Homo sapiens: one gene and its partner. The protein of the gene in region 2 interacts with the protein of the main gene of each other region in a biochemical or structural test. Each region holds a gene or a part of one and is shown on either strand. Other genes may lie near its edges.

Region 1 (16,838 bases), on a different chromosome or scaffold from region 2:
TCTGTGGAGCTGGGCTGCCGGAGTGTTGTGTCCCAGTCTGCTGCTGATTAGCAGTGTGGCTTGGGCAAGGAACTTGACCTCTCTATGCTTTTCTTATTTGTAAAATAAAGATGATCAGAAATTCAGTATGTATGTGCTGGCACAGGGCACTGGTACAGCATCTGTTCTCATGGGTGGGGGTTTCTGTTCTAATTGGCCAGGGCTCATACACTACTGGTTATTTAAATATTTTAAATAACATCCCTGGGAATAATAATACCAAGCTCATAACCGATCTGGGAACTAAATGGGATAACATATGTAAAGCACTTGATACCATGGCTGGTGTATACTTATTACACACTCTATGAATGTTATTACCGCGAATTGAATAGATGCCCCATTAAAGAATGTAGTTGCCAAATACCATCCACATTTTATAAATTCTATTGTAGTATCTAGATCATAAAGATTCTTCTAAAGATTTTTTTTATCACAAAATTGCAGAGTTGCAACCATGTAACAAACAAGTGAGAAATGAACAAAAATAAAATGGTATTGGCTTAGGATAGTGGATAAATTCTTTTTACTTTCCAAAGTTTCTTTAACTTTAATTACAATATAAAATAGTTATTCTTTCACAAATTAATTTATCTTTAACTGGTAGTAATCTTTAGATTAATAATCGCTTACTAATAGTAAATAGAATTTGGTTCAAAAATATTTTTAGATACTACCTAGTATTACTGTACAGATTTGTATACAAATGGTAAACTCAAACAGAAGTGGTCTCTGAGGATAAATTGGCATAATAATTATATGCCAAAGACTTTTACCCACAGCAATACCTTCCTTTATAGTAATGCTCTGTTGGTTAATGTTGAACATTTGCCTTCAAAATATATCAAGTATCCCTTACCCAAGACACATAACTATGCACAAAGCCCAGTTGTTTACTTAACTATGATCTAGCCTATTGGTTATCAAAGTATGGCACCTGGACCAGCAGCATAAGCATCACCTGGGAGCTTGTTAGATATGCAAATGTGTAGGCCCACCCTAGACCTACTGAATCAGAAACGCTGGAGATAAAGCCCAGCATCTGTGGTTTCACAATTCCTCCAGGTGATTGTAATGCACACCCAAGTTTGAGAACCACGGATCTCTTTCAATTTCTTTTTACTTTCTCCTTTTATTTCCAGACTCATTTTTTTTCTTCTCACTTTCTCCTGGATTTGCCATCCTTATGACAGGCTTACCAACCTTCAGGGAGAAGATGAATTTTGGACCAACATCTTCAAAACTGTGCACGATTGAAGGAACATTCCCATCCGAAGAGATTTCATAAAAATTTATGTTGGTAGATCTGTTGGATGATGTTTGTAAAGCCAAATATTTTAGTTTGCTTTTGTTCTTGAAGGTTAATATTTCTTTTATTTAAGTATCTTATAGCTTAGGTTAAAGTAAATTTTACTTTTAGTTACAAAAGCACCAAATAAAAAGAAATGCTTGCCTATGGGCTTATCGTCCAATGTATGTTTCTAAGACTAACATAAATTCCTTTGAAAACATATTTCTTTGTGGATTTTCTGCTAAGAGTTTGTGCATTACATGTCTACCAATTCTCAAGTTTCTAAATAAGTACAAAAGTATTACTTTAGAATTGATAGTAGAAGTCTTCCCAAGATTACTGTTATATTGACTAGTATGTTAACATAGTAGACAATCAGTACTTGTTAGTTGAATGAATGGATTTATAAGCCAGGGGTTTTCACTTTGGTGTGGCTAAAATATAATAATAGGGTATTGAGCTCCTTCAGTGTTCATTATTGGATGCCTGTATTATTCGTTCTTCCTATCCTTCTTTAGTTGCAAACCAATTTGAATGGTTTGGGTCTGAATGAGGTTGGTCAAATCTGTTTCCACCATTAGTGTAGAGACCACCTTTAAGATGGATGATCCAGAGGTTTTAGTATTCTGGACCTAAAGCCACTGGATTGATCTTAACTTCTTTGCTTAAGATTGCCAACTAAGTTCTGCAAGCAAAGTGATGATGAGATCAGAGAAACCCTCATAGGACCACTCAGACTAGAATGAAACTGGGGACCTCCCCTCTCCTCACTCATTTCTGGGGCTCTGAGGTGGGATTCCAACCAGGGTAGCTTCTTTGCGTGGGGGATTAGGGGATGAGCAGTGAGGGTAGGGGTCTGAGAACACTGTGCATATCCTTTCCATTTATTCCCACTGGACAATTTACGTTAATTATAGAATGTTGATTCTATTTCTTAAAAACTTGGGGTGGATATTTTCTGAAGTAGAATTTTTTGGGTTTCTTTACTAAAACCTTGTCTTTCCCTCTTTTATGCCTTAATGATTTTTTCCATATCCTTAAAAGGAAAATATGTCACAGGGAGACTTGAGTGGATGTATTTGTCAAGGTTATATATGAGAGGAAACAATGATTTGTCAGCCTGACATGGAAAATGGGAAAACTGACTAGGATTTGAAACAGAAAGCTTGGATGTGTGTGCATGAATTATTTCCTATGCCTTCCAGAAGATCTTTGTGTGAGATCCTAAATGGGGCCAATTTCTAAATTAATATGGTCTGCATTTGCATTTTAAAGAGATCTGACACTTTTCCATTTGTTACTTAAGTGTTGATCAATATATTTATAATAGTAAATATCTATACTCAGGGGGATCCTGCTTCAGAAATAATACTATTATCGCTATTTCTACCCATCATTTTTTTTACAATATAACTGTACAGTTATACAGTATCAAAGTTGTTGCTAAGAAATACACTAAGTTATTGTGTAGGATTTTTTCCAAAAGTTTGCAAAGATGTTTGTTATTTTTTTTGCAGCATTGCTTATGATGGTTAAACAAAACAAAATAAAAATGCAAAACAACCAAATGTCTTGTTAATATTGAATTGGTTACATAAATTATGATCCAGCCAGGACTGGAATAAGTTAGATCTGTATGTCCTCATATGAAAACTTTTCTAAGATTATGTAAAATGCAAGGTACAGAAGAGTGTTTTATCATTCCTTTTGGGTAATAAAATGTGCACATGTGTGTGTATATATATGTGTATGTGTGTGTTACATGCATATATCCTGGTAGATAAGCAACCCTGTATCTGGAAGATATTCTGAAAACAGTCTCTTATGGGGAGTGGCACTAGGGAAGGTGGGGAGGGATGACTTCTCACTGTCTACCTTTCTCCAATGTTTGGGTTTTCTAGGTAGTAGGACTAGGACCCATTTTAACTTTTGTTCTTTATAATTCCCTACGTTAATTTTTTTGAGGATATATTTTAAAGAACATTAGAATACATTTGAATTCAAGTTGCCATTACAAAAATACCTGCCTAAGATGATAATTAGTAAAAGTAAAGTCTCATTTCAATCTTATATTTATTTCATTCTTAAATATCTGGGAAAATATTGGCCATTGTAGGAGAGTAGAATAATAAAAAGACTGTATTGACAAAAAATATTTAGAAGAAAGGATCAAATATAAGAAGGAAAAAATTCAGGTAATGTGGTAACATCAATTTGGGTTGGTTGCATTTGTTTCCAATTTCTTATTTTAGCAAGTGGGGATCCTTTGAAGTCTGCAGTTACTGATGACTTTTTCAGAGATGTATTATTTGGACGGAATTTTGTTTCTGCTTGTGCTATTTGCAACTCACTTGATACAGAAGCATTCTTTTCATCTTTGCTGTTTGGCTCAAGCTCTAGACATGATGACATATTTTCCTTTTTGTTTTTGCTCAGAGAGCTATTGGATGATCTACAGATTCCATGCTCTTAGGGGCTGGAGTGATGTGGTAGAAGTTAGACAAACCTGCTGTCACTGGATTTCTTGGGAAAGTGCTGCAGTGTGCTATTCAGGGGTCATTGATCTGTGCTGGGAAGCTGTCCTATTGCTTCACCAGGTAGAGAACTCTGGTTCCCAGGCCTGTAGGAGGGCATCACCTGTGCCCAGTGCATCTGCACAACTGTGTTCCAGTTTGTCTGTGCCATGAACTCACCTTACTTCTAAGTGTGAGTTAAAGTGATATCGACCTATTAGAACCTGTGGAATTTGTGTGTTACCCACTTACCAAGACACCTGTCCCTCTGAACAATTAAAGACAGCCTGTATCAACCAGTGACATTTACACCACTGCTCTCAGGTTTGCTTGCTTTGGGCAGGTAAAAACAGGGAACAAAGCATTTCTTTATGGATAACATCCTTTGGAAAAAACCTCATTTCCACCTGGCTGGAAGAAAACCCTAATCTGATATGTGAGGAATTTTTCCCTCAGAAACTAGACTTGATCTAGTTCCAATATTTGAATATTCAAACAGTGACTAGATTCAATATTTATTGTGGACCTACTCTGTGCAAAACATTGTGCTTGGGGCTTCAATGTCCAGGAATGGGGATACTGCTTGAGATCTCACATACAATGGGAAGTAGGCAGTGAGAAGAAAGTGAAGACAACTCTCAGGACCTTTGAGAGTTCTGTTTCAACATTTTGAGAATGTTTGCAGCTACTCAGAGGGCCTGCAATGTGGAGTGTGCCTGTGATGTGTGGCTACGGGGATCTTTCTCTGCCTTTCTGGGCTACTCTCATTGGTTTAATAAGCCTAACGAGTCACTCAAGGTTTTCCTAGGGACCAATATGTCTGTGGACTCCTGTTTTAGTTGACAAGAATTTTAATTCAAATTCTTCAGTTAAGAATGAGCATACAGAGGACTTCTTTAGCCATGAGCCAAAAATCTTCTGATCTAGAGTTGGTGTCAGTGATAGCAGGTTACCCACTGCTTCACCTACCTTGTTAAGTGAATTTCAGCATCATACAGGAGAGGAATTTTGAGGTTGACCAAATTATCAGCCTTGTTTTCTTCTTGGCTTTCACTATAGAAAGAAACATTAGGAAATTACTTAAAGAGAAATACAAAGCTATCCATCATTCCATTCATGACTTCATTATGTTTTACCTTAAGGCTTGGAAACTGAGAGACGCCTGATTCTGAAGGTTTTGAAGATTGAAGTCAAAGTTAATAGTAAAAGTCACCTAAAGACAAAATTAAAATTTCTCAGTCTATGATGCTTCATACTCAGAGGCCAACGTGAAAAAAAAAATGTTTCTCATAAAAGTAAACTCACTCAAATTTGATTCTGAATTTTATATACCTTAAGCTTTCAAATTTGTGGAATATCTTTATTTGTCCACCTTGTTTTACTATGCCTCACATTAGAATTAGAGAAGCTTGACTTCCAAGTGACACATGTAAGTTATCCAGGCGTATATACCTGTCTGAATTTGGAAGCTTTGAGCTGATGTGAAACTTGTTACTAGGGGTTAATAAATGATCTCTGTGACTCTGTGTATAGTGCTTTGACCAATGTTGCTCAACATATTTAGACAAAAAGAACTTTCCATAGTATGTGTACCTTTTGGAATGAATTGCATGGAGAAAATCCCATTTTTATTAATAATTTAAAGAAAACATTTAGATATTGAAAACTTCCCCTAAGTATGCAGCTAGTTATTTTGTGATGCCTATCAAATCATGATAGCAAGATGTTATGTTGGTAAATTAGCATATGTGCTAAGGAGGGCTTGTATGGATTGGAGGATGAAATGCAAGTTGTACCTGTTGTTCTCTCTTTAAAGCAGGGTAGCCTACATCGCAGGCAACAGACTTCTGAGATGCAGCCACCTGGCATGTTACTTCTGTCCCATCAACCTGAACAAGACCAAGGAAACAACAATGATCAATTGGCATACAACATTTGTGTGTGTATGCACGCACCTGGTAAAAGAGGTACAGTGGCATTTTAGCAGTAAGGTTGGTTCATACTGAAATAATTTATTATACCTCAAGACTTGAAATTTTATACTGCCCAGGTGGCTAATATACTACTTTTATTGCTAACCCTAAAGATACCTAGAACATCCAACAAAACAAAGAAAAGATTAAATACTGTATTTTTTCCCCAGAAAAAAATGATAGTTTTTATTTTCAGATGCACGAATAGCTTTAATTCAATATTTTGAAATGCTGGCTTTAGGAATATGTTCTTCTCAATTTATTTGAAGCATTTTCAAGAGAAGAAAGTAAAATCATATGTTGGTGTTTGTCTGTATTTTAAGTAATTTGAGGGTTTTTTTTTTTTTTTTTTTTTTAGTTTTCTTCAGGTTTTTTTTTCCCTTTAAAGGAAGTAGTTGCCACTTGGCACAGGGTGTTTAAACACCAAGGTCAGGTTAGGTTTAGAACTCTAAGCCTATTAAGATCACATTAACTCTAAATTAAATGAAATCATTGTTTAATCCTTTAATCAGATAGCTCATTTGGAAAATCTCAGCTTTTCCTTCTCTCCCTTTTTTCTTCATAATTTGGTGGTAGAGGAGGGACCAGGGAGCACTCACAGTCAAGTGTGCTCCTGGTATAATGATCAAGTCAATGTGATTAGTTGGCTTTGCTGGCGTGCATCATCTTGGCAGCAGCAACAACCATAGTTGCAAAGCTCAGGCTAAGCTTTGGGACTCAAATGTCTCAGAGCAAGTGCACCACATCTGTGCAGAATGCAGCAGCCTCATCACACTGATAGCTCAAGAAGAGTTATGGGAGTGTCTGGCTACTGCTGCCAAGTCTCAGGATAAGGGAAAAACTGACCCAAGCTGTCAAGCAGAATCTAGATATAGAGCCAGACTATGTTCTCATGCAGTTTAACTAGTCGGAAGCCACAAAGTTCAGATTGATCATGTTGAGGGTTAAGGTGCTTCTTTAAACAACTCAGAGGACATAGAGAAGACAGTGATCTATAAGTAGGAAGCATGGTGGAAGTAAGTACAGGGTCTCATCACATACCGGCAGGGAGAATGATGCAAAAAACAAGTTTTCTGAAAAATCAACAACAATTCCAGTGTTGTATGCACTTTCCCTTTTATTTTTCAGCGTTACTGAAAATGTTAACCTTTTGTTTTGGTTGCTGACAATAAAGGGTTGTTCTCTGTTAAAAGTAAAAAGGAGGGGGGAAAAGCCATTACTGTTAAATAAAAAGGCCAGTATTTTAAAATTTCACTCATTAAAAAACTAAACTCTTTAGACTTACTTAGAATACTGAGAAAATTGCTGTGTAATAAACTATCTTTGCATCAAAATGATACTGACAACAAATAAGTAAATGCAATTGGATTGTTCTTTGTTGCTATTGTATTAGAGGGAATGGAACCATTTAAATACAGATAATTTTATATTTCTTATTGTTTTACTCCTATGTGGATGGTAGACATTGAAATTTAGTTTTTAAAGGTATTTATGAGTTATGAATGTTTCTTTTGTAGAAAAACTCTATAAACATTCGTTTGAATAAAGTAATCTAGTATGTCTTTTATTTCTACATTTTACAACAAGCTTTAAAGTAAAACTTACTGAGCAGCTGGTATTTGTCGGACATCTAGGACTAGATCAGAAATGCAAAGTCCGTCCTCACCACAGTCTTTGTGGAAAGGAATCTACGAAAAAGGAAAAAAGATCCATACATTTGCTCTTGGGTTGAAAAAGCAAATTACAGAAGAATACATAGAATATTATTCTATTTACATAAAGTACAAAACCAAACAATGTTCTAGGAATATATAAATGTTTAACAAAATAATAAAGAAAAGCATTAATAAACACACAATTCAAGATAATCATTTGCACAGGGGGAGCTAGATGAAAGTGTCTATGGCGGGGACAGCTATACGCAGAGCTTCATATGTATTGGTAATATTTTTTGAGTATGAGCACAAGGCATTTACTTTATTTTTATTTATTTATTCAACAAATATATATTGAACACATACAATGGGCCAGGCCCTGCTCTAGGGAGTGGAAACACAGCAGTGAACAAGAAAGACAAAAATCCCTGCTGTCATGGAACTTAAGTGTTAGTGAACTTTATGCATATGTAATTGTAGTTCATTTAGAAAATTAAGAATTTTCAGGCTGCATCCTAACCATCCTTCAGACACTATTGCAGTGACTGTGGAACTTTATTTGCCAGTCTAAATCCAGGAAGTGTAAGCTGCACTTACACTGAAGACCTTGGCAGTCTCAGAATAGGCTTCAAGGGCAGGGCTAGTGCCAGGGTTTTCCAGACTGATGTCCACACGCAAATCCAAAGAGTTGACAACATCAGAGGGCTCCTAAACATACACACACACAAACATACAGGGGGAGACAGAGTCAGTTTATTAGAGCATAGCAACATTAAAACAAGAAAATGATTCCAAATGTGTTTACAATTTAGAGCACAGTCAGCTCTCAATTATGTAGAATATCTTTGTTGTGAATAATCAAGACTCTCGCTTCTTTTCTTCCATCCTAATTCTGCTTTTAGCCTCTCTTCTACTAAGAAACCAAAAGAGACTTGGGTCTAGTAAGAATTTGAAGCAGGGATTCTTAGTTAAGCTCATCAGTTCTTGTCAAAAAAGCACTATGTCTATACAAATGAAACCCTAACATTTGAATTTGCCTTTTCCTCAGAAGCGGTATCTTGGTATTCTTTAGTCCATTCACAGGCAGGACTTACTCTTAACTCTTGGGGGCCTCCCAGAAGTCCTCCCAGAAGGACTTATTCCTTCTGGGGGCCTGTCTACCATGACAGCTCTGGACTATGAGGAGATGTTTCCTTGGCTGGCTGCGGGCTTAGCAAGTAGGATGTACTTTAACTGGCATTGATATCAAATAGTGAAAAAGGATTTTGTTTTTTTAAACTTTAAAGAAAAACAGCTTGGCTGTCTCCATTTCCTCACTAGGGATTGCATGTATAATCTGATCCACCAGTCAGCACAGGATGGGAGAGAAGGGAAATAAGATTTTTTCCTTTAAGGAATCTATAAAATTGTCACTTTAACAAAAAAGAAGTCTACGTCTTCACAAACAAGAAACCTTCAAATTGAAAAATGAACTAAACAACTCAACTGATTTTAATTCATCTAACCGTCAACTTTATGTTTTTCTAGTGTTTACACTTAGCATTTCTTGAAGTAAGATCTCTCTGTACCATCCATTTACATCAGAAATATTTGGGTTGCTCCTTAGATCTGCATATTCCTTGGGCCTTCAAACCTAGATTTCTGATGGTAAGAACCCAGAATATACATTTCCCAAAAGTTTCCCTGGCAGTTCTTTCGCACCTTAAATTCTGAGAACTGTATTCTAAGAAAGTACTTAAATATCCTTTTAAAAAAGTGATTTCCTGAGTAAATTATCCTTTCAAATGCCATTATGTGGTTTCCAAGGTGGAAATATTCACATCATTTATAAAATAAATTTCCGGCTGGAAGTTTTCTCCTGAAAAGCATTTTTCTCACTTGGGAAATTTTCAAAATCCATGTTAAATACAGTAATTACAGCATACGATTAGAACAAATAATTGTTATCTCATAATCTACTATATTTCATCTATGTTAACTTAAATCTAATAGTAGAAACCACAATTGGAGTTATTTTTCAGTAGCTGAACAATAAATAAAATTTTTCCCTGATAGGAAAATATCAAAATAACATTTATTGCCAATGGAAAGTTCTCTCTGTTAAACATTTAAGAAAACACTGTATCTATGATTTCTTTAAGAATTGTATTTTTAGCCCTTTCATTGCAATTCTAAATGAAATTTGATGTTGCTGACTTATATAATAGATTGTGACCATAAATATTAGCATAAAGTAAATATGCTTCTTATTTATGGAATTACATAAGAAAGGCATTCATTGGAAGGGTGAGCATTTTCTAACTCATAAGCTTCCATTTTTGACTTTTACCACTCTCTCGTCTTTAGGAAGAAATAAAGTCAAAAGGGATGTTCCTGAGGCCTTACCTGTATATAAATGATGTGCTCGGGGCAACTCTGTGCTTGATTTACTACCATATTCTTCTGCAGGCACCTTTCATTGTTTTCTTTAAATAACCCCCTGGAGGTTACTCTGGATGAAAATCCATCTGCATCAAGTGTGATGTTATATACAATGGCTATGATAAAAAAAATCATAAAGAAATGTTATTTCAAATCAACTTATAGGAAAAAGCATCTTTGCTTTATTGTGTCTTCTTGGACAAAGTATCTCACATCAAGAAAATATGGAAATAGTCTTCATATTGGTGGCTTGTGAACCATAGCTAGCACCACAAAGCATTTGTCATTCTAGCTCTGATGTGACGTAGGTGACTGTGCATACAAAGAAATGTGATTCAGAGAAATGTGGCTGGGAGCAGTGGAAAGGAAACTAGACTTGCCGCCAGGAAACCTACTGTGATGAACCTGGGCAAATTGCTCACTCCCACAAGCACGGGTTTCATTACTCATAACACGGAGACACAGAATGGAAAGGAACAGTTGCTGAGCGCCTGCAACTGGACACATTCTCATGTATGCCATACAAGTTTTACAATGAATCTGGAAAGTGAATTTTATTATCTTATTTTTCAAATAATGTACTAGAATAAGTGATGTAAAATAATTCACCTAAGTTCACATGGCTAGTCAGAAGTAAAAGTTGGGTATTTTTGAAATAAGAGCTCATATTCTTTCTGCTTCCATCCAGTTGTAAGAATTAATTGTTATTGTGAAGATTAACTGAGATACTCTAAGGGAACATGGACAGTGCTTGACCTATTCTAGATGCTCACATAGGGAAATGCATGCAACACTGCAGCAATAAAGTCTCAGTCAGGCAGACTTGGTTTGAATCCTAATTCTGCTGTTTATGAGCTCTGTGACTTGGGGCAATTTACTTACCCTCTTTGAACCTCTGTTTCCTAATACCAACTCATGAAAAAAAATTATGTGATAATAACTGATGTCAGTAGCCGATGTCTAAACTATCAGAATTATTACCTTCAACTAAAGTCCACTGGCCGTGTGTCCAAAATTGAGAGAGAACACCTGGTGCCATTCACAGCATCAGCTGCCTTATTGCCTTATTTGGGGTTATTCTATCTTACTTTATTATTTTCAATATTTTAAAGGTTGTATATACTTCCCAAAACATGAATTCTACATGTTACCTTGAAAAAAATCTATCATATATGTTGTACAATTTTTCTTGCTCCAGTGACTTAACAATGCCAACAAAGATAGATAAAATATTAAAGAATTAAATAAACTAAAAATAAGTTGTGAAGATGATGTAAAGGAAAAACAATGGCAAGGAGGTGAGTGCAGTTAGGACAAAGTTAGTCCACATTATAATGCTTTTCCTTTTTTTTTCAAGCAGCTTTATAAAAATGATACATCGCTTCATGGGCTATGTTATTAATCTTAAAGTGAAGTGTGCACCTGATGCAATAAATGATAGAAACCATATGCTTTATAAATTCACTTTCCACAGTTGTGAAGATGGGATTCACGTCTTACATACTATTATTGCCAAGCAATGAAGTGACAAATGAGCTCACAATCATTTCACTTGGCTTGTCTTTGTGGACCTGAAGGCATCAGGAAAAAAGATTTAAAGGGAAAGATGCCCAATAGTAAGAAAGGCCAGAAACCCTCGGCAGCCTGTGGATGGGAAGGAAATTCTCTGAAAGTAGAATTTTTGAGTGTGCATCACCATAAGGGTTGAAGTATAGTCAAAAAGGGAAGATACATGAGACACCTCTATGCTTCGGGGCCAGAAGAGCTGACCAGTTTGCTGTTTCTGCCAAATAATATATTTCCCAAGTTAACCTATTAGGCAGACTAGCCACAATGTTTATGCAGCAACGGTTTTTGACTTAACTATCATGTGTGCTCAGTTAGATGTGCTACATGGCAGGTCAAGTGACATATGCTACTCAAAATTGGGTCAATCTTTGAACATCTGCATGGAAAACTTCCAAATGGATATGAAAAGTAGGAAAATATGGAAAGCATGTTAAGATTTGAATCTAATTTTGCTTTGTGTTCTCATCTTATTTGTATCTTGGTATGAATTATGGCAAATAACCTGCTTCTGTATTTTCAGCTTTAAGTTAATATGTTTGTCACTTAATTGAATTCCTATAGGAACTACAAGTTCTGAAGTTTAAAGCCAAATTCTGACGGAATGGGAATTGGGACCCATGAAGCAGCAGTTAATGAAAGAAGGTAGCTTTGAATCAAGTGTTAAATTGCAAGCTATGCATTGAGCATGGTGAGATAATTGGGGCAGAAGAGATGAAGGTGAGATAGTGTGCTTAGAAAAAGCTTTGAAGAGGAGGCAGGACCTCTGCCAGGCCTTGAAAGACAACTTGGCCAGCCCAAGAGAAAAGACAACAATTCCTGCTGATGCTTGCCCACAATGATTTCCTCATCCTTCCCCATCTGATGAGACATAATTCAGACTTTTACTCATTTCTCTGTATTATTTAGAACATTTAAAACACTGGGTAAAAGTTATATATTGCTTTTCATGTTTTCTTTCATTATTTCATGTTTATTAATTCCTCAACGACAGGAAAAATACTTGATACTTTTACTGAACCTGTCCTATATAGATCATGGCATAGCCAACATGATATAGTCATTTGAGTGGCAGTTCAGCATAATCTGTGTATGCTCAAGGTTTTAAGTAAGAGAAATGGAGGTAAGAGAAACTCAAAGGATGGAAGCAGGAGGGCCCTTGGTTATGTCATAGAGATTACAACTTTCTGCAGCAGAACCTTCTAGAGATGTGGAAGGAAGATCTAAACAAATCTTCCATGACTAGTGAACCATTCTCGGGCATCTCCAGTGTAAGGAAACTTAAGTGTCTATAACTAAAACCCTTATTTCTCTTGGCCTACAAACCAAAATATGTTATATTCAGGACTAAAACTCTGTAAGCCAACCAATTTCTATACAGATTATTTCAGATCTACGCACCCACTTGATTGTTTTGCTTAGTAGGTCTGAACTTTGCACTGAAGCAGAGTTTGAGAATTATCTGAGCATTCTTGTTGACCAAAGTGATTTTTTCTGGTGTGAATGAAGCTTCTATAGCTACATCAGCAATACTTTGTGACCTAAAAGACATAAAGAGTAACAGATGGATGGATGTTATTACTGAGCACACGTATTATATCCTTTATCATAGAGGACCCAGTACCAGCATTACTGAATTTTTCTCTCTACTCTCTATCAAAGCACTTTAGCAGTAGTATATATTTGAAAGCTCTAAGATGGCAGACAGAGATAATTTTTTTTTTAATTTGTGACTGCATCACTAACACAATACATGTTTAACATATTAGTTATTTATTATACTTTAGGTTCTGGGATATGTGTATTTACTCTTGATATGCTACTCTGAAATGATTTTAACTGATTTATTCAGTAAATATATTTTCTTGTTTTTTTAAAGTCTTAAGTATTATTCTTGAGTTTTATTTTTTCCACATAAAAGTTTCATTCTGCAATAAAAATAATGTACTTCATTCTTTAAAAGCACAAGTGAGATTTGTAAATAGTATCATTAAACTCAGAAATAAAAAATAATCAATGAATATTATTTTTCTGTTCTTCAAATATTTGTACATTTAAAGCACATTTTTTGACAGAGACAAATGAATGGAGATTCTTGATTGAATAAACAACTTCTTTCTGATTCTATTCCCTTGCCGGCCCAATATACTTATTTTTGACCTTGAATCACATGACCTTCACACTGTTCTCTCTGAATCTTCAACTCCTGTGGAGGTCAATGAGAGGTCAGCTAAACCTAAATAATGGCTTATTGTTTATGACTAATAATTTTAAAATATACCATTCAGTCACATAGAAGTTACACTTTACTTGTGTGGTCTGAATTTTCAGTATTTTTGAATGCACTCTCATGAGGTTTCCCTTCTGTATGCTGAGATAAGGCTATTTATAGGAAGATAACATTCAGAAATAGCCTGGATACCATTTCCAGAACTTTATGTTTTCTATGTACTGTTTTACTCACCATATGAGGAGAGAACTATATTTCTAATGGTAAGCAAATATATCTATTTTTCCTACTTGGAAAAACACATTTATTCCTTTGTGCAAACTATGATACATCGATTCCCTATAGTCTTATAGAATGCATGTGGCATTTCTATAATACCAGTACAGACATCTGTTCTGCTTTCTTAGCAGGTAATTTTTAGTTAGTTTGTGTCTGGCTCTTCCTGACTCACCAGAGTTGAACCACTTGTCCAAAGGCACCAATAGACACATCGGTGATGGAATCCCCATTTAAATCTCCATAGCCATCCAAGGACCTCCCAAAGTACTGGAGATGGCTCCTAAAGGCTCCATCGGATCCCAAGATTTTCTAAAAGAGCAGGTTTGACACGAAATTATAGTACACAACAGCTGAACCAGAAAATGGCAGCCTCTGAATTTCATTATTATATTTTCTATATAGTAATGTCCCAGATTGTGTTTATTCTCTACAAATTCTAAAGATTCATTTTTTAATCACATCTTATTATCTGATCTCTGCATCACTCTTACAGCCACATTTTCATCGAAGGGACAGCATAAATCTTTAATAAAAAATCATAAACCAGTGAAAAGATCAGTGGACTTGGAGCAAATTGATGCAAGTTCAGGTACAGGGTTAATTTCCTAGTTCTTTTCCTTCCAGTCTTACTCCAAAATTGGCTGCTCAGTGAGGCCTCATTAGTCACCCCTTCAACCACCTGATACTCCTATTGCTGAAATTTTATTTCCTATTTTAGTTTCATTTGCTTTTTTAAAAATTCCTTTATTACTATCTGGAATACTTTATCTTATCTACTTCTTTCTTTTTATTTGTCTCCTCCAATATAATATAAGGCACACAAAGATCAGAATTGTGTCTGTCCTGTTCTTATAGCATCCCCAGACTCTAGAACAGTGCTTGGGCACACAGTAGAGGCTCACTTTATATTTGCTGAGTGAAAGAATGAAGTTACAAAATAAGGCGGACGGATTGCATGGTTTACATGACGCTTTCTATGTCTAATATGATAAGACCCACAAATACATACATCACCATAACAGCTCATGGATTACCTGGGAATACTTTGTGCGGATAGTGCCCTGATGACCATTGTAAATGTATACAGCTCCAGAATTCTGATTTTCTAGTGGTGAACCAACAATCACATCATTAAAGCCATCCATGTTGATGTCTGAAAGAGCTGCAATTGCTGAACCAAATCGAGTGTTTTCAATGCCCTCGGGGCCTTCAAGAAATTGGTGCTGACCCAAAATGCCCTTGCAAAGGGGAAACAAAAGGATGATTAAAGCAAACCTTACAACTTGTATAATTAAAATTCAGAGCAGCTGGGTGTGGTGGCTCATGCCTGTAATCCCAAAGACTCCAGAGGCTGAGGCAGAAGGACTACTTGAAGCCAGGTATTTGAGACCTGCTTGAGCAATAGTGAGACCTTGTCTCTATAAAACATTTTTGTAAAAAGTTAGCCAGGAGTGGTGGCACACAGCTGTAGTCCTAGCTCTCAGGAGGCTGAAGTGGGAGGATTGCTTGAGCCTAGGAATTAGAGGCTGCAGTGAGCTATGATCACACCAGTGCACTACAGCCTGGGTGACAGAGCAAGTCCCCATCTATTTAAAAAAGTGAAAGAAATATGATAAAATAAAAAAGAAAATAAAATTCAGAGCAATCGATGACCAAACTAATTTTTTAATATTAAAAATGGATAGAATTTTAAACCTGAACTATTTATGATCAGAATTATAAATAAGAATTTCAGTAAGGTCATAAATATCTGCTCATAAACCAAGGTCAAAGGAGATAATTCTCTTTACTGTAGCTGAACAGCATCCATTTCTTGGTCTCATTTTCCTCTCAATAATACGATCTTCATCTATTTCCAACCTTTTGATTTAAAATTTTTCTGGTGAAAATTACTAATATCTTGAATGAAATTAAAGCAGACACAGAACAAAATAAAACACAATATCTTAATTTAGGCTTTCTGTAAAAATTACCAAATAGTGACATAATTATAGTGGTACAGGAAGTAGAAAATGAGATTGTTAATATCTCCATTATTAAAAACATTAAATAATTCTGTGCAAAGGAAAAGACGTTTCCTTGTAAAACACAGTTTTTTTCTTCAATTTTATGATCAAGTATGGAAATATTTCATGACTTCACAAGAAAGCAATGTTTCTCAACCATGAAACTGGGTCAGTGTTCTTTCTCCTCTAATATAATCTTATACAAATTTTTACTGCGTTTGACACGGTATTAAAAGATCTGTTCATTTTCAACAATTAATGATAATTCAGTATATCTCACAAGTAAGAAATATTTAAAGAAGGGGGGATTTGTCAGTTTTTCAACAAGTAACTAGGTCCAGCCTTTGTTGATACTCAATTACACATTCTTTATATGTATAATTGCTTTAGAATTGTTTTAATTAATTACTTCTGTTAAAAGATTAATTTTTACATAAATATCAATAAATCAGGTGGTACAAAATATCACAATACTTAAACATAGTATTTACTATTTTAACATCAGCTTCTCCTTTTCTTATATACTAAGGAGCATATAATTTTCTATGTCAATCTGTGCCTTTAATTTGGTTTTCTTTTTTTATTTCATGGAGTTCACTACACTTATATACATGGATTTAGAGAGTTCAGTCCACAAATTGGAAAAATTATGCTTTGCCATGTTAATGTATGGTGTTTTTTTGTGGAAGGACTTGAAACTTCAAGAGTTGGATACATGCCTAAATGTTACACTAAGCAATGACACTTCCTGACAAACTAATGTAGGAAGCATCTGAGATCACAAGGAATTTACAAAGTGCTTGGTAAAACTTCTGTTTTTCACTGTCAACTGATAACAAGAAAGCATTGCCCTGTTATTGTTGTC
Region 2 (16,803 bases):
ACTGACATCTTACCTGTCTTTAAAGAACATCACTTCTCCCCGAATCGTAGTTATAGCATCAAAGGTTAGCTTACTGTCACACGCTTTTGGGGTTTGTGGGCCGATGGGCTGGACAGGATTTTGGGAACGTCCTAAGGAAAATAAAATACCTAGAGTTAGTTTTGCCTAGTATTAGAAAACTACATAAACAATGAAGACAGCTTCTTCAAGGATATCGCTAATGGCTGTTTTATTTGAAATACATATAAAGACCACCAGGCCCTTGTCCGTAATGTTTTTCCCCATACTCACCATATATGGCTTGGATGCCATCAATGTCATCCTGAGCTAGCTGAACATCACCACTGAAGGTGTAGCTAGGGTACATCAAAGCCCCGATATCAGTAGAATGGGAGAGTCCAAGAGAATGGCCGAGTTCATGAGCTGCAACACGATGTAAGTTGTACTCTAAAAAGGCCAATAAATCAATTTGTAATTATTTGAAAGGTATTCAGTTTTGAGGCATTTAACTAATAAATAATTTACAACTACAAGGACTCATGTTACTATTTTATCAGTGACTTTTGAAATATATGCATGTATATCTTTTTTCCGAAGGCAGAAGGCATGCATTTATTAATAACGAAGAGACATGTTGAAACCTAAACTCTATGATTACATTGATACAATTAAAAGACAAACTCAGCTGACTGAAAGCGCACCACAGATTAATCAATATTATCAATGATTAAATGACACGTACTATTTCACACAGAAGCAAAATGTTCTATTAACATTTAATATTTTTCTTTTTCTTTTTTTCTTTCTTGAGACGGAGTCTTGCTCTGTCACCCAGGCTGGAGGGCAGTGGCATGATCTTGGCTCACTGCAACCTCTGCCTCCTGGGTTCAGGCGGTTCTCCTGCCTCAGCCTCCTGAGTAGCTGAGATTACAGACGTGTGCCACCATGCCTGTCTAATTTTTATATTTTTAGAAGAGACAGGGTTTCACCATATTGGTCAGGCTGGTGTCAAACTCCTGACGTTGTGATCTGCCTGCCTTGGCCTCCCAAAGTGCTGGGATTACAGGCATGAGCCACTGCGCCCAGCCTAATATTTAATATTTTTCTTATTTACAAAACTGATAAATGTTGACTGCTGGAAATTTTGGAAAACACAAAAAGCCTTCCTTTTCTTTAATTTCCACATAAGTTTATGACCGCTGTTAAATTTCACTGTTTTCTTCTAATGAAAAAGTTTCAATGTTGATGCCCACAATTAAAACATCAAAGTTTTCAACAATTTTCTTAATAAAAATTTTAGAGTGGCCTAGTTGTCACTGCTAAGATGTTGTTAGCTAGCAGAAAAGACCGCTCTTTCACTTTTCTAAGTGTATCACTAATTTTCTGAGTGGTAATAGAAAAATATATACTTCTATGAATGCATTCTTTCAACTAAATCAACCAATATTACAATGAAACATGAAGGGGTGGGAGAATTGAGAGAGGCAAATTTGATTGGCTTACCTCTGAAATTGTTGGTCCACCTTTCATCTTCATCAAAATGAGCATCCCCTCCAATACCTGGGCCTGGTTGAAAAGCATGAGCAAGATTTCCTCCAGGTCCATCAAAAGGAGAGTTGTCCCGATGATCTGAAAGAAACAATTCAACAAAGATTCCTTGTGGTTCTTATGTAAGCTAAGCCAGAAGGGCAAGCATTAGCTTTGTTAAGAGGCCAACAGACTTCCATCAACTGTGATGCAGTTTCCCTCTTCGAGCCCATAAAATCAACATTCATCTTAAACAATCAATTCCAGTTGCAAAGCTACGAGATCTAGGGGCAAGGTGAGGTTAAGGTGCTATAAGAAGAACTTACCTCCCCTGACAAAAGATATCATGATGTCTGCTTGACCCTCAGAGACCTTGGTGAATGTCAGAGGTGTGACATTACTCCAGAGTTGGAAGGCTTTCTCAATGGCATGGTCCACATCTGCTCTTGGCAAATCTGGCGTGTAATTTTCAATCCTTAGAATGAAACAAAATAGAGACACATTGGACATGACTTCTTACCACTGTCATGGGAAATAGCTCTCTCACTCTGGCCCTCAGTCTGCCTACCTGTAGGTCAGATGTGTTTGCTCCCAGCGAGGGTTCCCCTCAGTGAGGACAAACTGAGCCACATCAGGCACTCCACATCTGGGCTGCTTCATCACCTTCAGGGTTTCAGCATCTGGTTTCCCAGTCACTTTCAGCCCAAAGAATTCCTGCATTTGCTTCAATTTTTCAACCACTGGGCCACTATTTCTCCGCTTTTCAACTTGCCTCCCATCATTCTTCAGGTTGTAGTATTTTTCCAGGTATTTCTGACAAAAGAAAATTATCGAAACACTGCATGGGAAATCTTTCTCATTATTCTAAAAATTGATGGCATTAAGTTTTAGCCAAAACAGAGAACTGCTTTTAAACCTTGTGTTTAGATTTCGCAGTTGCTTTTATCCTTATTTTTGGTGAGAAATGAAATTTCAGAGTAGAAATGTCCCTACTATTAGTTATTGTGAAGTAAGAACTTCATAGTAGAGCAATTTTTGTAGAGCAAGATTTGCATACTGTTACAAGTCTACAATTTGTGGAGACAAGTTTGGATGTTGTTCCTTTAGTTCACTCTCACCTCCAACTGGAAAAAGAGAGCGTATGCATGGCTAGATACATTTTGGGTGGAGGGTGCTGTTTCTAGCAAAAAAAAAAAAAATCTCTTTATAAGAAACCTATCCTTAAAAAACTCTATTACATTACTGCAGAAAAATACAAACTAAAAATTTACATTATTGTCACATGCAATGCAGCATTTACCTGGACTAAGTCCACATCTTGCTCTTGTGTTTCTAGAGTCGCTGGGAAGCTGTGAGACACCACACCCCAGAACAGCAGCAGCAGCAGTGGAGGAAAGCTGTGCATACTGGCCTTTGTCTTCTTTCTCAGTGCAAGGTAAGTGATGGCTTCCCAGCCTCTTGCTGCTCCAATATCCCAGCTAGGAAGCTCCCTCTGTATATATAGAGTCCTTGCCCTTCCAGAAAGCCAGAGGCTGTCTGACTCATGCTTTATAACATCCTCTTGATTAGCTATGAATAGACTAGGCAATCATTAGAAATGGTGACTCCTAGCAGATTATTTGGAATCACTTGGTGTTGCAATGTCATGATTAACTTCAAACAAGATGTGTGCGAAGGAGACACACTCTGCCATGTAAACAGTGGTTTTCTCCAATTCATTTCTTTCCTATTTGAGAAAGGTTCTTGTTATATACACAGGTCAAAGAGTACTCCATGGTCTTTTTGAAAAAGACTGGTTCTGATGGTCATAAAGTGCTACAGGTTTCTCCACACACCTTGCTCCCAGGGCAGAGGGTGGAATTACTAACACTGCGCACCTGATGGCTGTTCGGCACCTGTACTGACTGAAGTTCAGCTCCCCCAGCACTCACTTTACGGTGGCTCTTCGGGGTTCTCTGAGGTTCCCTTCTGCCTTTGTTAAGCTGCCTGGTACCCTATTGCGATAGCACCATGGCTTCCCTTAATCTTTACTCAGAGCCAGGCATGGTGGCTCAAGCCTATAATCCCAGAATTTCAGGAGGCCGAGGCAGGGGAATCACTTGAGCCCAGGAGTTCAAGATCAGCCTGGGCAACATGGTGAGACCCCATCTCTGTAAAAAACAAACAAACAAACAAACATTTTTTAAAGTTAGCCAAGCATGGAGTCATGCACCTGTAGTCCTAGTCACTGAAGAGGCTGAGGTGGGAGGATCACTTGGGCCTGGGAGGTTGAGGCTGCATTGAGCTGTGATTGTGCCGCTGCACTCCAGCCTAGGCAACAGAGAGGGACCCTGTCTAAAATAAAATTTGAAAAAATTTACTCAGGCCTAGGATTTAAGAGCCTTACCTGAGAAGACCCCTCATCCACAGGCGGAGTATGAGATAACTCCCCACCCCTTGCCCATCATTATCATGGGACAAATAGGATCCTTCCCTGAAACTTGTCTGAATGTACCGGATGATGAAAAGGCTGGAAAGAGACTGAGCGTGACTCTGGGGTCTTATTTTTAATCATACTTGTTTCCCTTGATATGAGTCTATCTTCGCTCCTTGGTGCTAGGCAGCATTTATTTATTCTTTCATGTATGCATTCATTCATATATTTATGCATTCCTCCATTCAAAAGATCTTATTTAGCATCTCCTGCCCATTAAAATAAATACATGGCTCTGTAATGAAAGATGTGTATTCCTGTACTTATGTTCCACATTAAATTGTCTTGGGTACTGGTGACCGGTGTCACCAGTGCTATCTGTAGCATTCCTGGTAAGAAAAGTTGGTTTATCTCTGTAGCTCCCCTACTCATGCCCCACTCTCCTTCCTTGGAAGCATTTATTGAAAACATACAGTGGAGAAACACTGGCCTGTTTTATCACTTCAGCACCTTATGGTGTCTCCCACCTTTCCCACTGTATCAGGTTTGCTTTTCAACACTTTCCTCCCCTTATGGATTCCTGTTTTCTTTCTGCGTCAAGACTGATATCTTACTCATAAACAATACTTCAGTATATCTTGGATTGATTTGAGATAAGTCATATCCTTTCTAATTATTTAACTACAATTTCCTCATCTAAGTGGCATAACATGTGAGTTCAAGAGGGTAAGAAGAATGGGAAGACATTCTCACGAAAAGGAAATCCTCTTCTCAGAGGCATCAGAGGGAGGGTGCGGCAGAGACCAAAGAACACTTGCCACTGAAGTGACTCCAGCACAGACAAAGAAAATAGTGAAAGGGGCTCTTCATATTAGAGGGTGAACATAGACTATGTTTTAAAAGTCAAGGAGTGGCAGATATACTCGACTGTGAGGGAATCTAGTCACTGTGAAGACGTGACAAGCCTAGCTCCACTGAGGCCTGGGAAACAAGGGTGAGTTAATAGGTTAACTCAGGAAAGCAGCATGTGACCATCTGTGATTGGACAGGAAATTGCCTAAGACGTCACCCTGGAAGAGTCTCATACACTGTCCCATCTGGCAAGAGCCTGCACATCCTGCAATGTAGAAGTTTTCAAACTTTTATAAACCTCTGTATCCTTTACTTAAACAAAATCCCTTTTGGAAAGCAAATTTGAAAACCAGGTGAAAACAGAAGTTCTCTGATGGAAGTTGGAAATAGAGCCTTGGAGTCCCCCACAACCCGCCACATCATGCCTGCTTTTTCCTCCCTTCTCTAGCAAAGCTCCCTGCATCTGAGTCCAGAGCTCTCATGCTAAATGCTCATAGTGTTTCATTAAATGTCATAGTTGCTGACGTGGATTGGAAACTGGTTGCTTGAAACATCTTTTCGTTAATTTTTTTTCCTAAAATAAACGAAAAAAATTAAATTAAGTTTTGGTTAAGCAGCCAGCCTAGATTCACATGGCCCTGAATCTTGGAATTTCCAGTTAGGTATTCATGGAAGATCGTCTAATACAACATATGTAACTTTGCAGCTGGTGCTAGCATATGATTTATTTGAGAGTAAAAAAGAAAACAAAAATTTAGAACAGAAAGCTGGGGATTAAATCATACCAAATCCTAGCAATGCCTAAACTTAGCATAGTTTCCAAGAAGTTCAGAACATGTTAAAGTTGTATTTGCTCTTCACATCCATACTATTTGTTTCCTCTGGGAGCATCTTCTTCCCCCATAATTCTCTTTTAAATGTAATTTTCTGAAATTATTCCTTTACCCCTTATGACAAGCATAAGAGGGCTCTCGTGTGGCTGTGTCAGCTGACTCCGGACTATTTCCAGGCAGCCAGATTATTTCCGTGGTTTTCTTGGTTGCTTCATGCTGGCTGCTCTGTGAAAGGCCTCAAACATATTTGTATTTTTCCATATTAAACTTAGTCTTGAAATTTCAATCTTGCTTCATATTTTTTTATGCTGGGGAATTCAGCCGTTTTAATTTTGTAACTCCATTTGAGTGTCAGATATTTTTTCTATTTTTTTGTCCTGCAAGTCTTGAAATGGTCTTTAGCCAGAAACATTAAGTATTTAATGCTATTTTGTTGTGAGAGTTACACGTGGGAAAAATTTGCCCCACGGTCTGTATTCTTCCTACATATGGCCATGCAGTAGCTTTATGGATAACCATTGACCAGACACTTAACAGACACTTGGTACACACTGGTTCCGTCAGTCCTCATGGTTACCTTCTGGGTAGAAATGATTGATCAATTAACCCCAAGTCCCAGGGCACACAGCAGAGCGGTAGTCACTCGTTGAACACAGTTCTGTGCCACTGCAGTCCAGACATAACACATACATACTCTGGGGATAGAAATCTTGCTTCCCTAACAGAGAGAAAGTGTCTGGAGACACGAGGACTGTCACATTAACTCCCTCAAGTCCACAATAATGTCTCCATGCCACCACCCGGTCCCACAGGCCTGAAAGAATCCTCCCCTTCAAGCTGTCACTCAATCTCTCTTATTTCCCTTATCAAACTTGTTGAATTTATAGTTTATACTACCTCAACATAGTAGGTGTCTGCAAATGATTGTTACATGAGTTAATAAATGAATAGATCAATGAAGAAATAGATACTTAAATGACACTTAAATAAAGGGTCTATTTCTCATTAGGCTGAGTTGTTTATAAGAAGTCTTATGCCCATGACTTTTACTCTCCTAAGACTAAAGTTTTTAAAATTACCATGGGAAGAATTTGGATATATCAACTGACTGGACATTCAATTAACTAATTTATTTATTTAGAGACAAGGTCTCCCTCTGTCGCTTAGGCTGGAGTGTAGGGACCTCAAACTCTTGGGCTTAAGCAATCTTCCTGCCTCAGACTCCCAAGTAGCTAGAACTACAGATGTGCACCACCATGTCCCACTGATTTTTAAGATTTTTTGTAGAGATGAGGTCTCACTATGTTGGCCAGGCTAGTCTCAAACTCCTGGCCTCAAGCAGTTCTCTCACCTCGGCCTCCCAGAGTGTTGGGATTATAGGTGTGAGCCACCACACTCAGCCTTACTGGAGATTTTATATGAAGCATAGCACATTTATTTTTGGTGATTTGCATGCCATGCTACAAGCATTTAGTATCAGATTATTTTGAGCATTTTATTAATTTGTTTGTCAATAATATTTTCTTATCTGCATGGTTTATTAAACACTGTGGAAAATGCTTATAGTTAGCACATTTGTGAAACAGATTTTTGCAGCTATAGCTCCTTTTAAAGGAAATTCAAACCAAGAGACTTTCTGGGGATGAGTGCTACTCATACCATAGCTCAGTTCAGCCCTGTCAAAACCGTCCTTTCCCAGCTCTTACATCTGTGAATGTGAATTTGAGATGGATTTGAAATATGTGAGGAAGCTTCCTGTGAGATTTTGATCATGTGCCCAGACTATGACTTGCTTGTTTGGAGTCTGTGACATACACACGTGTGTGGCCTGCAGAGCTTTTAGTCCATGATTCAGAATTCAAACTATATTCCATTGTTTCAGAATTTTTCTGTTTTTCACAAAGTGAAATGTTCTCTAAGCCTGCTACCCAGTTCTTTTTAATTACTCTTAACTACTTATGCCTCAGCCATAATTCTTTCTTTATTTTTTTATTATTATACTTTTTGAGGCAGAGTCTTGCTCTGTTGCCCAGGCTGGAATGCAGTGGCATAACCATGGCTCATTGCAGCCTCCGCCTCCTGGGCTCAAGTGATCCTCCCACATCAGCCTCTCAAGTAGCTGGGACTACAGCTCTCGTACGGCAACTGGGGAACTACAGGTGTATGCCACCACACCCAGCTAATTGTTATTATTATTATTTTTGTAGAGACAGGGTCTTGCTATGCTGTTCCGGCTGGTCTCAAACTCCTAGCCTCAAGTGATCCTCCCTCATCAGCCTCCTAAAGTTATAATCATTTATGATGACCATTGGGCTGGTCAGCTGGTTTTCCTTGAACCAGTCAATTCTTTTTCTTTTTTTTTTTCTATTGAGACAGAGTGTCACTCTGTCACCCAGGCTAGAGTGCAGTGGCATGATCTTGGCTCATTGCAACCTCCACTTCCCGGGCTCAAGCAATTCTCCTGCCTCAGCTTCTCAAGTGGCTGGGATTACAGGCATGTGCCACCATGCCTGGCTAAGAATCAGTCAATTCTTATGAATTCTCACTGAAAGAAATAACATTTAACCTTTACTGGGCTCTCTATACCTTTAACATACAAAACTATTTTATCCTCACAATAATCCTGTGGAATAGTTAGGGTGGATACTATTATTTCCATTTCATAGGTGAAGAAACTGGGACAACTTTCCATGACTAAATCTTTTGTCCAAGACAGTTCCTCTAGCAAGTAGTAGAGACAGAAACTTGAAAAAGGTCTTTGGCTGCTAAACCAGGTAATTCAGCTCTTAAGACAAAAGATTAATCCCTGCAGACATCTTTTTATACTTGTCACTGAGATGCATTTTTAGTTCTAATAGAAAATTATTGATGAAACCACCAATAAGACTGCACAGTCCCTTTTTGCTTAAACTGACATCTTCTCCCGTGAATTATACCCTTCTCTCTCAAGGGTGTTTCTTGCCCTTGGCACAGATTCTTTCCCTCATCCTGTGAACATGGCTGCTCTGTGAAATACATGAAGGAGCACAACCCTAACAATTGTTGCAACCCATAACTCCTTGAGCATCACTTTTCTCTTTGTCATCAGCCTTATTACTTAACTTGGATCTTGACCTTGACCTCACCCCCTTGTAGTACATTTTCAAACATTACTATTAACATCCACCATTTTAAAAAAGTCAAATGGCTTTTCTTCAGTTCACATTTTCATCAGTCCTTTTTAGTATTCAATGCTCAGTCTTGGAAACCCTCAGCTTGGAGTTTCTGCACTTTATTTTTCTCCCTGTACCTTTCTGATTATTTCCCCTCCTTTGCTGGTGTCTCCTTCCTTCCCTTCCTCTTGAATTTTGCCATTCACCAATGTCCTGTTTTGAGTCTTCACTTTTAATCTCTGGCCACTATTTCTCCAGGACAGTCTCATCTATTCCCACAACTTCACCCAACATCCCCACAAAAATGTCTTCCTAAACTCGAGCCCTACTGTTTTCCTGAACTCCTGTCTCATAGTTTCCACTGCCACCAGGACACTTCCATCTGGATAGATCTGGTTTCATTTTCTTTTAAACCAAGACTCCTATTCCTCCTTATATACTTCTTACCTAGCACAGCTTGCTAAATCACAGACGTGGGTTCAAATGCCAACTCTGCCAATTACTAGCTAAATGACCAATTATTCAACCTTTTTATTTTCTCATCTAAAAAATGGAAATAATAACAGCACCTGCCTTAGATGGTTGTTTGGAGACTAAAATAATACATATAAAATATATTAGTACAATGACTGGCACACAGTGAACACACACAAAATATTTGTAATTATTTTTATGAATAAAATGCTTCAGTGGTATCCATTGTCTAGCACGGCAAAAGGAACAACCAGCAGAGTAAACAGACAACCCACAGAGTGGGAGAAAATCCTCACAATTGATATATCTGACAAAGGACTAATATCCAGAATCTGCAACAAACTCAAATAAATTAGCCAGAATAAAACAAACAATGTCATCAAAAAGTGGGCTAAGGACATGAACAGACAATTCTCAAAAGAAGATATACAAATGGCCAACAAACATATGAAAATATGCTCAACATCACTTATGATCAGGGAAATGCAAATCAAAACCACAATGCGATACCACCTTAATCCTGCAAGAATGCCCATAATCAAAAAATCAAAAAACAGTAGATGTTGGCATGGATGCAGTGAACAGGGAACACTTCTACACTGCTGGTGGGAATGTAAACTAGCACAGCCGCTATGGAAAACAGTGTGGAGGTTCCTTAAATAACTAAAAGTAGAACTACCATTTGATCCAGCAATTCCGCTACTGAGTATCTACCCAGAGGAAAAGAACTAAATTATACAAAAAAGATACTTGCATATGCATGTTTATACCAGCACAATTCGCAGTTGCAAAAATGTGGAACCAACCCAAATGCCCATGAATCAACAAGTGGATAAAGAAACTGTGATATATATTTATCATATATATATTTTATCATATATCATATATATACATTATATATATAAAAAATATAACAGAATACTATATATGATATATATAATACTCTGTATATTATAATATATATACTATATATAGAGTATATATATTATATATGATGGAATACTATTATATGTGGTAGAATACTACTCAGCCATAAAAAGGAATGAATTAATGGCATTTGCAGCAACCTGGATGAGATTAGAGACTGTTCTTCTAAGTGAAGTAAATCAGGAATGGAAAGTCAAACATCTTATGTTCTCACTCATAAGTGGGAGCTAAGCTGTGAAGATGCAAAGGCATAAAAATGACACAATGGACTCTGGGGACTCAGGAGGAAAGGGTGGGAAGGGGGTCAGGTTTAGATAAAAGACTACAAATTGAGTATATACTGCTCAGGTAATGGGTGCACTAAAATCTCACAAATCATCACTAAAGAACTTACACATGTAACCAAACACCACCTGTTCCCCAGTAACCTATAGAAATAAAAAATTAATTTTTAAAAAAAGCAAAACAGATATAAACTAACTTTAGCACTTAAGACCTTCCATGCTCAGGTCTAAAAATAACTTACCGGTCCCACTTCCCTCTCATCCTACCCCCTTACAAACAAAGTGAATTATATTTTTTCCCAAATGTGCCTTGTACCTGTCCTGCTTTTTTATATTTTTTATTCTCCTCTATTTCTACTTAATACAAGTCTACCCATTCTGCAAGACTTAGTATAAGGGTTACTTCGCTGATAATTTCCTCCATTACCTTTCTCCCTTTGTGAGATAGGTTTTTTTTACAGAAAGTTTTTAGTTTTCAATGAACTTGTAAACAAAAAAAGTTCCCATTTCAAAATAAAAACAAAATCCCAGATCATGCAGATGTTTACAGTGATTATGTTTATCTAAGCAACATGGATACATGTTTAGTTGTAAGATGTTAACTAAATTTCTGTGACAAATATGCTTTTTTAAATAACAAGAATATTATAAAATTAATGCAGAGTCCTAAGAATAACCTAGTAGTTACTAAGTTTTTCTTACATCTTCATTTTGGACGCTGTTATTTCTAGCACGAATGAGCAGGCAGAGCCTTTCATATGCTCAAACAATGGAATATTTGGTTGCTATCATATCAATTGGCTTTCAAGCAACAAGACAACCATTTTAAGAATGTTTTAAGTGAAGAACTTGCAAAGCCCAGGGATGGAAAAATGCTAAGAATGCACAATTGCGAGCACTTACAACCATCACAACTGTGGCTGAAGACTTTATCTCCTTCTTCTTAAATGACATCTCAAAGTAGTATAGTTCAAAACAAAAGGTTTTAACAAAAAAATTGGCATTTGCCCAATTTCTCCACTAATTTGTGTGAGTCAAACATTTAATTTTTTCACTTGAAAAAAAATGCAATAGAAAACCGGACATCATGTTTCACTATCTCAGTTAATATTCACGATTACAGCAGCTGCAATTCAGGATGCAGCATTACCAGTGCTGCCCAGAGTCAGTTCATACTGAAATTAAGTTCCTAACACCAAGTAGTTGGTTGCAACTACCATTGGCTAGTGTACATATGAAATAAAATTTCTAGCAGCAACAAATGCGAGATCAAAAGCAACAGATCATCTGCTCTGCTTCTTCTGTTACTCAGCTCGTGCTTAGAAACCAGTGGGGGTTTGGGCCTGCTGACCCTGCCCACTGGAAGAGGCTGTCTGCTGCGCTACTTTCAACTTTCACATTGTCCAATAAAATGTTTAGTCGTATTGGTGGTTCAGGGTCCTCGAAAGAATGCGGAATAGCTGTCTGAGATACACCTCATCCGGGACTTCCTCAAAGTGTAGCCCGCGATTATAGTTTAAGCACATGGCAAATTCTGCAGGAAACCCCTTACATAAAACTTCAACAGGAGTGGGCATCTTCTTTTCACTAATCTTTTCATATTTTTGTTTCTTTGTTGCGGACCTAAGTCCTTGCCATGGCAAGCTGGTTCTGTTAAAACACATCAAAACAGCCTAAGGATTCCATATCATCTCTGTGACTCTGCTCGATACCAAGATGTGCATTGATGCTGGCACGTCGGGCAGTGCTAGTGAGATTTTTATATTACCTGCACAGTATGCGTTGCCTTGTCCTGCTGTTGCTGTATTTTTTGACCAAACCAGAATCAATACGGAATAACTTACTACAGTGGTGTCCAATACCTTTAGGGAGTTATCTGGTTTAACGTCTCTATGTATAAAATTGTTTGTATGCACATACTCAATTTTATTGATTGTCTGGTCAGCTAACATAAGCACAGTTTTCATTGTGAACCTTCTTGAAGAGAAATTGAAGAGGTCTTCGAGGCTAGGTCCCGGAAGGTCTATGACTGGTACATTGCAGTCTTTTTCCTGATCATACCACGGTATGTGGGGGATGCCAAGCCTGCCTTGAAGAATCTCACAGAGTTTGCTTTCCTACAGCAACTGGGGATGCCTGGCCTTTTGAGATTCTAGCTTCACTGCCACTTGCTCGCCATTGGTGATATCGATGGCCAGATAAAGGTCCCAGAAGGAGCCAGACCTGATCTTCCTTACTAGTTTATATTTCCCTCAAACAATAAATTCGGCCTTGGATCCGCTGCTGCTCGCCATCCTAAGAGATGAAGACAGAGGCTGAGGCCAAGTCCAGACGCCTCTGAGAGGAGGACGGAGGCCTCTGGGGCTCCTCCACGGCGGAAGGTGGCAGGAAACGGGACATGGAACACGGAGGCCTCCCTCATATTCGCGGCCCGGAATCAGCTGACGGGGAACCTGATCACCGCTGCTCAGTCAGGTTTCTTGTTGCCAGGCTGCGGTTTGTGAAAGGGTTCTTGCAGTTACAAGGCTGGGCCACTTGTTTCTGGGCGGCGCCACTGCCTTGCTGTCTCAGCTATGTGCAGGCTGGAAAAAGGGGTGCGGTGAGCTAGAGCAGGGATACCATTGCCACCACTGCCAGCAGCTCCAGCCCGGAAGGACCCCTGTCCCTCTGCCGACGCTGCCGTCTTGTTACTCCAGCTCCAGCCCAATAGTTTCACTCTGAATTTTCTTAGCGCATTACACTTTCTTAAAGCCCTTTTCATATTTTCCTTATCTTCACCTCATTCTCTTAATGGAAGGTGATTTGTTGAAAAAAGGCTGATGTTTTCATTGTGTCCCTGCCCATTCTCCAAGGTTTACCAGTTGCTTTGTAGAAACTTGCTCAACAGGGGAAATGTTAGGTTACATGCAATAGAATAGAAAAAGTGGCACTTAGTACTTTTGAGGGTAAGTGTCCCTTTAAGGGTAAGTGTCCCTTCTTTCAGTAAGAGTTCTTTCGCTTTGCAAGTCTGAGGGAAATCCTAGTGACTATGTATGCTGAAGTGGTTTGATACGGTTTTGCAGTGTCCCCACCCAAATCTCATCTTGAATTGTAGGTCCCATAATTCTCACATGTCTTGGGAGTGGTCCCGTGGGAAGTAATTAAATCATGGGGACGGGTCTTTTCCCGTGCTATTCTTGTGATAGTGAATAAGTCTCACAAGATGTGATGGTTTTCAAAAGGGGGAGTTCCCCTGCACATGCTCTCTTACCTAGTACCATGTAAGACCCTGACTTTGCTCCTCATTCGCCTTCTGCCAGGATTGTGAGGCCTCCCCAGCCATGTGGAACTATGAATCAATTAAATCTCTTTCCTTTTTAAATTACCTGGTCTCAGGTATGTCTTTATTAGCAGCGTGAGAACAGACTAATACATGGTTAAACCCAAGAAACCACAGTGAACTCTCAAAGAAAATATATTTATCAGACTGTCTCAGTATATGTGGACCACATGTTAGTTAAGTATCCCCTAGACTTTTGTATGAACAAATTGAAAGCAAGTAGACTGAACTCACTCCCACTTAGTAAGCACGTCTGATCTACAAGGCTAGAAATTGCAAAAATAATCAGACACGAATTTAGCTCTTAGAAGTTAATTTGCTCATGAAATGGATGCAGCCTAATTATTGCATAAATTATTATTTCTTCAAGTAGCTGTTAAAATCTTAGGTGTAATTCCTATTATGCCAATGAATATTTATGTGGTATATATCTCCAAAAATATTATGAAAGACAGGGAAAATAAGATTCAAAATGCAAGTGTGTGCTTTCTAGGCAATTTATCCAGAAATACAAATTTAATCAAAGTCCTTTTTTACTATTCTTTAAGTTCTGGCACTTCTTACTACTGATAATAGATCTTGTCACATTGGCATAACTAATATCTGTTGGGCATTCTTGGAGAGGTAAGTGGAGAGGGACTTAAAGGATTTGTGTGGTTAGACAGCTGTCTGGACTATTTCAATAAGCCCTGCCTGCGAGGGTCCTTTGTTGGGTCTTGGGGAGCTGATAAAAGTGAATGATTCTTAAGCCATTTTATACACCAAAACATGAGTAGGTATTTGTTGGGATTTGGCTTAAGACTGAGGACATGCAACTATTCAGTTTCAGAATCACATACTGCATTGTGGAGAATTTTGGAGATTCGTTCTATTTCAGAAAGGAGACCAAATTACCTACTCTCCAAATCGTCTCATAAAAAAATTTAATCCTAGAGATCAATTGAAAAGGAAATCAACTTCTGCTTCCCTGTTTCATATTAGTGGTCCTTGAAGTTAGGGTAATATAAATGTATTATTTCCCATTTAAATCACATGCAATGAAAAGAGTTTCTGACACAGAATAGCAGAATACATGCTAAATAAGAGTTAGATTTATTATTTTTATTTTTGTGTGTGCTTTCTCAACTAAATTCAATTTCAGGTAAAATGCAGAGATAGCCTCAGCCTATCACCCTGCAACTAGACTCTGTGCGTTCTGCAGTGAAGCTGATAAAAGACAGTGCCCTATCTTTAGGCACAGCCTAGTTCTCCTCTGCGGTCTTGGGAAAGAAAACTAAGTTTCCAGGCCACACAGCTTTCAAAAGTAGAATGCCTGTGGTGGTGTAGAAGAATGTATATAGATAGAATGCATGGGACAAAATAGTTTTTATAGAAATCTTCTCTGAGGATTATAGCCAGAACCCCTCAGAAAACTCTATCTTAAAAGCTACACAACTAGAGCTTCTGTTTGTTTTCTTCCATGGCTTTAAGGCTCAGCTTGAGGTCATAAGCCCCCATCAGGTCCCCCAGTGTCTTCTGTTACTGAGCTCTTCTAGCGCCCTGCTGTCTACGTTGTAAGAGCAAATCTACATACTATTTACATGGAAGGTTAGCGCAGTCTTTCTATAAAAAGGTACCAGTGCATGTTACATATTTTACCTACACACACTTGGATCTTTATGACTCAATATCTGTAAATATACCCGTCTATGTAACTATACATACATAGGTGTATTTAACACAGTCCCAGCAAAATAATATATACATATAATTCTATAGACAGAGTATGTCATAGGATAATATATTGAGATATAAAATTATATTTTCCTCTATATTTTTCCCTGACTTTGCCAAGAACTGTGTATCTCCTAGTCTCAGAGGTGTCTTCAGGACTTCAGTTGAAACCTACATGAAGGCAATATCTCTTTCCAACTTTTGGAAAAGCCTGAGCTCATAGGAAGAGGTTGTCAGATGTCTTCAACTAAGAGGGGAAAGGAAAAAGGTTTCAGGGAGGCATGAGAGAGGGAGAGGTTTCCTTAAACTGGAAAGAGACATCTGGGCTGTTTCCACCAGGCATAAAGACCCATGCTCTACTTCTAGGTCCCTGGAAACTCCTGGGGTAGTTGTGAGGTGGGCCTAGGGAGGCAGGATCCCTCAGATCTGGATCCTTAAGAGTGTGTGAGTGAGGAAAAATGGAAACTCATACGTTGTCTTCTCCAAAACTCCAGTAGGTGGCAGAATGGAAATTTAAACCCAGGGCTCATTCCAAAGTCAATGCACGTTCCAATCTCAGTGCTTTTTAGATGTAGTAAGTGAAGATAGTTATCTCGTATGTGGAAGGGGGATGTGTAGGGGATGTATATTTCAAGTATTCTCCAAAGGATGTGATAGACAAAGTGCAGAATTTGGAATTAAATGATACAGGTTTGAATCACAGCAGAGCAATCTTGGGTGTTATCTGCAAAAAGGAAATAATAATGCTTACACCATTTATTTATGATGTAATTGAACTGATAAGTACTTTGCAAATTGAATGACTACATATGTTGTTTTTACTACCTTCTGACCTTTAAGACTGTTTCCCATGATCAGGTACTACACAGCAATAAAAGGTAAACAGGAATTCACAGACATGTAACTCATTTCCTTAGTCTATGGCATTTTCTTGAACTAAAAAAAGAAATTTGTCTCTAGAATATTAATCAAAATACTACCTGTATACATGTATTACAAATTCTATATACTCCCATTCACTAGTACTCCAAGCAGCTTGATTACAAATGTTGAATTACCAGATGTACACAGAAACAGAATATAGAACTGGAAACAGCATTCTTGTGTGAAAAAAAAAACTGATTTTTGTATAAGGCAGATTTGGATTCAAAAACTGAGTTTGCAACTTTTGAGACTTACATTCTTGGGTATGTTAACCTCTCTAATACTGTTTTCTCACCTATACAGTGGAAATAATAACATTAATATCCAGCATGACAGTTTTGAGGATAATTAAATCCCCACATGCAACGTACATCATGCTTGTCAC

The links.
Region 1: the proteins of MMP1 (region 2) and ITGA2 form a complex in vitro, tested with the Homo sapiens proteins (one study listed by BioGRID).

Annotation. Positions count from the first base shown.
Region 1 is NC_000005.10:53,063,279-53,080,116, reverse strand, and holds part of ITGA2 (integrin alpha-2 precursor), read right to left. Parts: intron 15,206-16,838; coding exon 15,002-15,205; intron 14,318-15,001; exon of another isoform or gene 14,277-14,317; coding exon 14,140-14,276; intron 13,000-14,139; coding exon 12,860-12,999; intron 10,009-12,859; coding exon 9,857-10,008; intron 8,180-9,856; coding exon 8,069-8,179; intron 7,505-8,068; coding exon 7,422-7,504; intron 7,000-7,421; coding exon 6,858-6,999; intron 5,733-6,857; coding exon 5,640-5,732; intron 5,057-5,639; coding exon 4,980-5,056; intron 4,897-4,979; coding exon 4,813-4,896; intron 1,346-4,812; coding exon 1,243-1,345; intron 1-1,242. UniProt on the Homo sapiens protein: Integrin alpha-2/beta-1 is a receptor for laminin, collagen, collagen C-propeptides, fibronectin and E-cadherin. It recognizes the proline-hydroxylated sequence G-F-P-G-E-R in collagen.
Region 2 is NC_000011.10:102,795,161-102,811,963, forward strand, and holds the start of MMP1 (interstitial collagenase isoform 1 preproprotein), read right to left. Parts: upstream 3,001-16,803; 5' UTR 2,933-3,000; coding exon 2,828-2,932; intron 2,341-2,827; coding exon 2,096-2,340; intron 2,003-2,095; coding exon 1,854-2,002; intron 1,630-1,853; coding exon 1,504-1,629; intron 448-1,503; coding exon 292-447; intron 132-291; coding exon 14-131; exon of another isoform or gene 1-13. UniProt on the Homo sapiens protein: Cleaves collagens of types I, II, and III at one site in the helical domain. Also cleaves collagens of types VII and X.